2 linked regions of the Homo sapiens genome follow. Changing the gene in region 2 together with the main gene of any one other region gives a genetic interaction. Each region holds a gene or a part of one and is shown on either strand. Other genes may lie near its edges. The genes, in order: SPPL3 and LPAR6.

Evidence for each region.
Region 1: changes in LPAR6 (region 2) and SPPL3 together harm fitness less than expected from each alone (positive genetic interaction), as found in Homo sapiens cells (one large-scale study listed by BioGRID).

Annotation. Positions count from the first base shown.
Region 1 is NC_000012.12:120,901,294-120,905,855, reverse strand, and holds the start of SPPL3 (signal peptide peptidase-like 3), read left to right. Parts: upstream 1-1,497; 5' UTR 1,498-1,988; coding exon 1,989-2,011; intron 2,012-4,250; exon of another isoform or gene 4,251-4,562.
Region 2 is NC_000013.11:48,410,591-48,414,702, reverse strand, and holds LPAR6 (lysophosphatidic acid receptor 6), read left to right. Parts: upstream 1-1,589; 5' UTR 1,590-2,279; coding exon 2,280-3,314; 3' UTR 3,315-3,565; downstream 3,566-4,112. UniProt on the Homo sapiens protein: Binds to oleoyl-L-alpha-lysophosphatidic acid (LPA). Intracellular cAMP is involved in the receptor activation. Important for the maintenance of hair growth and texture.

The sequences.
Region 1 (4,562 bases), on a different chromosome or scaffold from region 2:
GCCCTCAAAGTCTGGCCTCAGTGCACCTTCTCAGTATATTTTCTCAACACTCCAGCACAAATCACCCATCCCACTCTCGGATTCAAGCTCACCAGGAATTGGGCCTTACTTCATGCCATTCTTTCTTTCTAGAATGCCTTTTCTTTTTTTTTTTTCTTTTTCTTTTTCTTTTTCTTTTTTTTTTTTTGAGACAGAGTCTCGCTGTTGCCCAGGCTGGAGTGCAGTGGCGCAATCTCGGCTCACTGCAAGCTCTGCCTCCGGGGTTCACGCCATTCTCCTGCCTCAACCTCCTGAGTAGCTGGGATTACAGGCGTCCACCACCACGCCCGGCTAATTTTTTGTATTTTTAGTAGAGACAGGGTTTCACCGTGTTAACCAGGATGGTCCCGATCTCCTGACCTCATGATCCACCCACCTCGGCCTCCCAAAGTGCTGGGACTACAGGCGTGAGCCACCGCGCCCGGCCAAAAGAATGACTTTTCTTTGATAAGCCTCTCACCCTTTCAGACGGCCTCATCCACTCCTGGGGAAGCATTCCGCAGTACCTGGGGCCTCAATTAATCTCTCTCTTCTCTCTCCATCTAAGCTCCAGATTCACTTTGTTGGTCTCTGGTCTAGCTCTACCGTGTTTATTTCTGTGCCGGTTTCCAGACCTCCAAATGGACGGTTTCCTGAGCCTTCTGCCCTTGCTGTTCCCTCTGCCAGGAACTCTTTTCCTGTGGATCTTTGCAAGGCCAGCTCTCTGTCATCATTCAATATCAGCTCAAATGTCACCTCCTAAGCGAGGCCTTCCTTGACCACCCTATCTAAAGTAACCCACACCTCTGCTCACTCTCTGTCCCCTCACCTTGTGTTACAAAATGTGTTTTTGTAAAACTTAGCAGCATCTGAAATTATCTTATTTGTGGGCTTGGACTATGTCTCTTCCTTTAGAATGTAAGCTCTAGGAAGGCAGAGTGAGTTGACACATGGTTGGCACCCAACAAATATCTGTTGATTGATTCTGTGAAGGCAAGCGTGGGGTATTCGACTTGGTGCCGGGCCTGGGCGCAATAAAGGTTGGCTGCCTGGAATATTTGCTACCTGAATGAATGAACCAAGGAACATACGAACGAAGGAATGCAGCCCTCTGCCTGTTGACTGACAGGTTGACTGACAGTTGGGGGGCCCGTGGCCAGCAGACTGTTGACTGACGGTTGACAGCTGAGTGGCAGCCAACAGACGCGCATCGGGGTTCCCGATTGGCTGGTGCAGCAGCCCCTCGGAGAGGGGCGGAAGAGGGTACCCGAGGCGACATCTCCGCGTGGGGAGGGGGGCGGCACCAGGCAGCGGGAGGCGGCCCAACTGCTCTGGCTGTGCGAGCAGCAGCCGCCTAGAACCCAGGAGCCGACGTCTCTGCGCATGGGCCCGGCTCGAGGGGCGGGGCGCGCATCACGTGAGCGTGTTTTGGGCACGTGACCCGCGCGGGGCCAAGGCTCGCCCCCGCCCCCGCCCCTCCTCCCCTCGGCGGGTGTGATCGAGTGGCCTCGCCTCATCGCCTAGCGCCCCCCTCAGTCGCCGCCGCCTCCGCCCGCCGGCCATGTCCCCCGGCCGCCGCCGCCGCCGCCCGAGCGCGGCGCTCCCGCGGCCCCGCGCGCAGTGAGCGCGGGCCCGTCTTGCCGTTCGCCCGCCCCAGGGCCCCCTTGTTCTCCGCGCCGCCGCCGCCGCCATGTTGGGTTTGGAGCTGCAGCGGAGCCGCCGCCGCCGCCGCGGGTGAGGGAGGCCGAGAGCGGAGCCCGCCCCGCCCCGGGGCCCAGGGAGCGGGGCCGCTTCGGAGCCCGGCCTCTCCCCGCCAGCCGCCTTCCCGGCCCGCCGTGCAGCCAGCGAGCCAGCGAGCGAGCAAGCAAGCAAGCACCGGACCCCGGCCGCGCCTTCAGCTACGGCCCGAGCGAGCCCGCCGCCGCCGGGCCCGGCCACAGCCTGCAGCGGAGCCCACGAGAGGCAGCGCCATGGCGGAGCAGACCTACTCGTGGTGAGTGCGGGGCTCCGGGAGGCCGGGAGGCGGCAAGGGTGGGGGTCGGGGCGCCGGCGCGGCCCGCCGAGGGGAAGAGGAGGAAGAACAGGTGCGTGTCGTGGGGGGGGGGCGCGGGTTGGGGTGCACGCCCCCCTCTTCCCCACCGGAGGGGGCGGCTGGCGCGCACGGAGGGCGGTGAGTGGCCGGGGACCTGGCGTCCGAGAAGGGGAATGGAGGAGGAGGCAGCGGCGGATGTCATCTGGCTATGGGCGGAGCAGGTGATGGAGAAGGGGAGCATGACCCCGGGGGTGGGAATCCCACGGATGGGAAGTTGAATCCGACAGGCACCCCGGAACTGACTCGTGGGGGTGTTTCCTGGGCAGGAGGACTCGAAGGGGTGGAGAGAGGCAGGCCAGGGCAAAGGTGGGCCGCTGGGCTGAGAGGAAGCTCTAGTGAGAACAGGTGATAGAGGCAGAACTTCTAAGTTGGGAGAGTGGAGCGGCCGCCGCTTGGCTCTGGGACAGGGAGCGCAGGGAGAGTTGGTGAGGTGGGCAGAGGCCCGGGAGTGAGGGGAGGAAAACTGCGGGGGTAGAGTCCACGAACCTTGGAGGGGAGTCACTGGTGAAGAGGTTGGAAGAGGAGCCTGAAGAACCTGTTTCCTTTTCCTTCTGGAAAAGGAATTCGTTGGTGACAGTGGGGCATGGGCAGAGTCTTTGTAAGGGTTGGTACTATTATTTTCAGAGGAATGGCGCCCAGGGCCAAGTGTGGAGGTGGAGGACCTGCAAGTTAAGTTCATTTCTGTGGGGCTTTTAAAGTTAGTAAGTAGCTCGTTAAGGGCCGAGAAGCGAGAAGCTACTGTGTAGTTTATGGGGTGACAACCTACATATCCGGAGAAGGGAGTGCCAGGGTTTGGGGGAAGGAACATGAGGGGTCTCCCTTTAGCATGTAGAGGTGGGATATTTGCAGGACGGGTTGAAGGAATGATGGCAGTATCCATGAAGAGTGGAAATCGGGTAGTGAGAAGGAAGTCATAGCTGGAGAGTGAGGAAGCAAGAAATGGCATGATCGTAGGAGTGGGGGACCTGATTGCAATTTAGAGAAATGGTTTGAAGATGGTTTACTCTTGAAGCAAATGTGGTTTGGGACAGAACTGTAGACATTCCCTTCTTAGAAAAGAGCATAATAGAATGGGACGAGCATGCCGTGTGGAGTTGGAAGACCTATTTCGGAGGTCCGGTTTGCCACCAACTTGCTTTGTTGATACGACATGGTAGTGAGTTCTTCGGTCCTTTTTCCTTACCTATAAAATAGAGGGAATTACCTTTTCCACAGCCTGTAAGGATTAAGTGAGTACATTTAGAAAGCACTTGGCAAACTGTGAAGTGCCACAGATCTTACTACATTAATTATAATTATCCTAGAGAAACATCTAAGAAATGGGTAATATCAGAAAATAAGGAATGGTTTTAGGTAGAAGACTTTGAGTGGATTATTTATAGTGTTAGAGGTTATAAGTCAGTAACTCATTGAGTCTTCACATAAGAGAAAGGGAGTTGGGGATTGAAGATGATAATTCTTAAGAGAACTTCATTGATGTATGTGCAATCTCAAGAAGAAGGTAACTGAGAGACAAAGTAACCCTAAAGGAAGAATTAAAATCTTGGTGAACACGTGCTCTAAAAAGAGGTTTAAGCTAATTTCATAGTTTTGCGTGACAGCTGCCTTTCAGTAGCAGGTCGTAGGGAACACAAGATTACAATTTCAGCTTCCTTCTGGACAGAGTAAGAAATGAAGGTAAAGGTGTTTCTGTCATGCCTTGTGGTTACTCATCTTGAGCTTCTCATACTCTGGCCCTAATGGCTGTGGCCCTGAGAGTCCTAATGGCTGCTTTGCTGTTTTTACTGTGCTGTACAGAGGCCCTGGATGGTTGAAAGAATAGAAAACTCAGTGGTCAAGAAATGGGGAAAATGAAAATGTTTTACTAGGTAGGTTGGACACACACGACCTCTCTCTGACATTAGTTGGCTCTATTAAGGAGGGATTACTTTGTGAAGTTTGACAATTTACAAATTTATTCTACTAAAATACTTCCTTCAATGTCAGCTCTGTTTGCTTTACAGGCAAAGAAACTCCTTGAAATCGGGGAGCTTAGCCCCTCAACCTTTGGCAGGTTTTGAGATGAAGAAAATTTTTACATTATCTGGAGAGAGGGTGGCATATAAGGGGAGACTGGGGAAAGTGGGCAGTTTCCTTTTTTTTTTTTTTTTTTTTTAGGACGGAGTCTCGCTCTGTCACCCAGGCTGCAGTGCAGTGGCGCCATCTCGGCTCACTGCAGCCTCCGCTTCCCGGGTGCAAGCAATTCTTATGCCTCAGCCTCCCGAGTAGCTGGGACTACAGCCACATGCCACCATGCCCGGCTTTTTTTTGTATTTTTAGTAGAGATGGGGTTTCACCATGTTGGCCAGGCTGGTCTCAAACTCCTGACCCAGTGATCTGCCCACCTCGGCTTCCCAAAGTGCTGGGATTGCAGGCATGAACCACCGTGCCCGGCCACAGCTTCCTATTTAAT
Region 2 (4,112 bases):
AGTGTGAAAGAATGGTGCAAAACAACACAAAACATTTTACTGTAATAAGTTATTTTTAAGCTAGCTAAGTAATTTATGAGAAAAAAATAAATTGTTCTTAAATTACTTAATACCCAAGAGGAAGAGTTTCAGCTTAAACTAGACCAAATTAAAAAAATAATAACAGTAAGGCATAACTAGATCTAGCCTTTTCTGAAGAAAATGATATTTAAAACAAGAAAAACATGTGCCATAGAGGTTGTGATATCCTCAATCTTTGAGGAAATAACACCTACATTTAAGTACCCTCACCTTACACACACTTTCTTCTTCTGATTTTGGAGTCTTTAAAATATAAGTATACTTTTTTTTTTTTTTTTTGAGATAGTCTCGCTGTCGCCCAGGCTGGAGTGCAGTGGCTTGATCTTGGTTCACTGCAACATCTGCCTCCCAGGTTCAAGCGATTCTCCTGCCTCAGTCTCCTGGGTAGCTGGGACTACAGGCACGCACTATTGCCCTAGGCTAGTTTTGTATTTTTGGTAGAGATGGGGTTTCGCCATTTTGGCCAGGCTGCTCTCAAACTCCTGATCTCAGGTGATCCACCTGCCTCGGCCTTCCAAAGTGCTGGGATTATAGGCGTGAGCCACTGCACCTGGCCCAAAATATGAGTATACTTTAAATATAAACATATAAACCATTCATAGAAACTTTTAGATGGAGACAAAATCTGAAATATATTTCAATATATAGTTAATGTCATATTAAGGGGTTAAGGGAAGAGCTGGGAGGAAGAAGGAAGATAAGACTATGAACCTAAAATTTTGCCAAGTAGTAGGATTTTTATTCTCTAAACCTTATTTCAATCAATTTAAGGTTAAAAAAATTTTGCTTAAAAAGATGCAATTTCATTTTGTGCTTAGAAAGTAAAATTAACACCACACCAAAGATAAACATTCTTGAGTTTGTTCTTTTGGAGAAATGAGTAATTTAAAAATTTAAACAGCTCTAAAATATTAATACAACTGCATAGGAAAGAGGAAAGAATGTTAGAAAATTGCTTATCAAAAACTAATGAGACCCAGGATAAGAGCTACTCATAATGATAACAATTAAATATTGAGTATTTTTCAGAAACCAAGAGTCAAATGCTTGTTATACCTTAAAGGTTAAAGGCCCCTGTTTCATAGTCATTAAACAGTTCTTTGAAATGCTATGTTAAGATATCACTAACAATTTCAATTTATAAATACACACCCATACACATTTTCTTTTCTAAATTGTCATATCCCAAACACGAAAACAATCGAATAAGAGAACAGGCTGAATAGTGATTTTTTTCTTTCAATTATTACTACTGAAACAAATCAAAACAACTCTGAGAGGTTGCCAGCACCGCAGAAGGCATTTCCACATAAAAAGAGTTAATGAGCAGACCACGCAGTTCAACAGCCAGTGACCATTTGCAAGCCTCCTAGGTATATTCCCAGCAGACACATTATCAGATTAAAGGAAGTGCAAACAAACTGGGCTGAAAGTTTCTTTGTCCAAACCCAGCCTCTTCTTCCTGTGATGTCATATTACAAATCTAGGAAGCCTTTCTTTTTCACTTCAGAGAAAGCGACCTCAAGATACAACTGGCAACTGAGGAAAAGGCCTCAATTCAACAAGAGCTAACAAGCTTGGGAGTTTATTTCGGAATCTTTAAAAGACTCTTCTGCTTACCCACAATCTGGGATCCACTGCAGGAAAACAAAAAAGGAAAACTTCATTTAAAAGAAGCAAGAAGTAAAATGGGACAAATTGGGAATGTTTAAGTCTCTGAAACTCTGCACTGAAAAGAAAATAAGATTGATAACTTAAGCTTAACATTCTGAGGCATAAAGAAACATTAACTTTGGAGTATTCATCTTGACTACTGAAATACAAGTTTAGAAGACAAGTGGTTTCATTCTGGTCACAGATCACAGCTTTTCTTTAAATTTATAATCCTATGGGTTGGACTCGTTGACTGTATTTTTTAAAGGTTGCTCGTCAGTTAACTGAGCCTTGGAATTCATGGATTTTCTAAAGACTAACAAATGAAAATATTTTCCTGTTGAAGAACCCAGCGGAAATTTTACAGCAACAAATTTCATGTTTCTTTTGGGTATTTCTGAGAAAAAGGAAATATTTATAAAACCATCCAAAGATCCAGATAATTTGCAAATAAATTGGAGGTTATAGAGGTTATAATCTGAATCCCAAAGGAGACTGCAGCTGATGAAAGTGCTTCCAAACTGAAAATTGGACGTGCCTTTACGATGGTAAGCGTTAACAGCTCCCACTGCTTCTATAATGACTCCTTTAAGTACACTTTGTATGGGTGCATGTTCAGCATGGTGTTTGTGCTTGGGTTAATATCCAATTGTGTTGCCATATACATTTTCATCTGCGTCCTCAAAGTCCGAAATGAAACTACAACTTACATGATTAACTTGGCAATGTCAGACTTGCTTTTTGTTTTTACTTTACCCTTCAGGATTTTTTACTTCACAACACGGAATTGGCCATTTGGAGATTTACTTTGTAAGATTTCTGTGATGCTGTTTTATACCAACATGTACGGAAGCATTCTGTTCTTAACCTGTATTAGTGTAGATCGATTTCTGGCAATTGTCTACCCATTTAAGTCAAAGACTCTAAGAACCAAAAGAAATGCAAAGATTGTTTGCACTGGCGTGTGGTTAACTGTGATCGGAGGAAGTGCACCCGCCGTTTTTGTTCAGTCTACCCACTCTCAGGGTAACAATGCCTCAGAAGCCTGCTTTGAAAATTTTCCAGAAGCCACATGGAAAACATATCTCTCAAGGATTGTAATTTTCATCGAAATAGTGGGATTTTTTATTCCTCTAATTTTAAATGTAACTTGTTCTAGTATGGTGCTAAAAACTTTAACCAAACCTGTTACATTAAGTAGAAGCAAAATAAACAAAACTAAGGTTTTAAAAATGATTTTTGTACATTTGATCATATTCTGTTTCTGTTTTGTTCCTTACAATATCAATCTTATTTTATATTCTCTTGTGAGAACACAAACATTTGTTAATTGCTCAGTAGTGGCAGCAGTAAGGACAATGTACCCAATCACTCTCTGTATTGCTGTTTCCAACTGTTGTTTTGACCCTATAGTTTACTACTTTACATCGGACACAATTCAGAATTCAATAAAAATGAAAAACTGGTCTGTCAGGAGAAGTGACTTCAGATTCTCTGAAGTTCATGGTGCAGAGAATTTTATTCAGCATAACCTACAGACCTTAAAAAGTAAGATATTTGACAATGAATCTGCTGCCTGAAATAAAACCATTAGGACTCACTGGGACAGAACTTTCAAGTTCCTTCAACTGTGAAAAGTGTCTTTTTGGACAAACTATTTTTCCACCTCCAAAAGAAATTAACACATGGACATTTTAAAGTCTTTAGTATAAAGAAAATTTGTATTCAATGTGTTAAGCATTAACATGTATTTTATTTGTGTATCCACTCCATCTGATTTTTCTGAGCCATTTTGATTTGTTCCTTCATTAAAAAAAATCTCTTAAAGTTATTTAGTGTCTAAAAGTGACTGACTTAAATTATGTGGTGCCAATCTGTAATGTCTTTGAATTCCTTTTTATATTAAATGATTTAATTTACTAAATTATTTTATACTAATTTATGTTTATGTAATATTTTATTCAACATACCATTTTTATTTTGAATTAAAACTACTAATCATATTTCTTAAACTATGATTAACAAATGAGAAAGAAGAGTAATTTGAAATAAATGTTTTGGGAGTATTTTAAAATATATGTATAACTAAAAACGTAGTCTTCTGTAGAAATGATGACATATTAACATTGTTGGAAGATCTTGAGCAGTAACACATTGATAACATTTTGGGAGTTTGGTCTGTGTAGGCAATTTGTAGAAAGCAGATGCTATCTATATGGTATGCTTTGAAGTTACTATTTTGATTTTCTGTATATAATGCACCCAATTTCAAAATGATATATGCCACAAAAATTGAGAGGGAGAAAACTAATAAAATGTCATTTTGCTAAGTTTTTACTTAGCAAAAAAATAAAATACTACCAGAGGTACATTTTAAA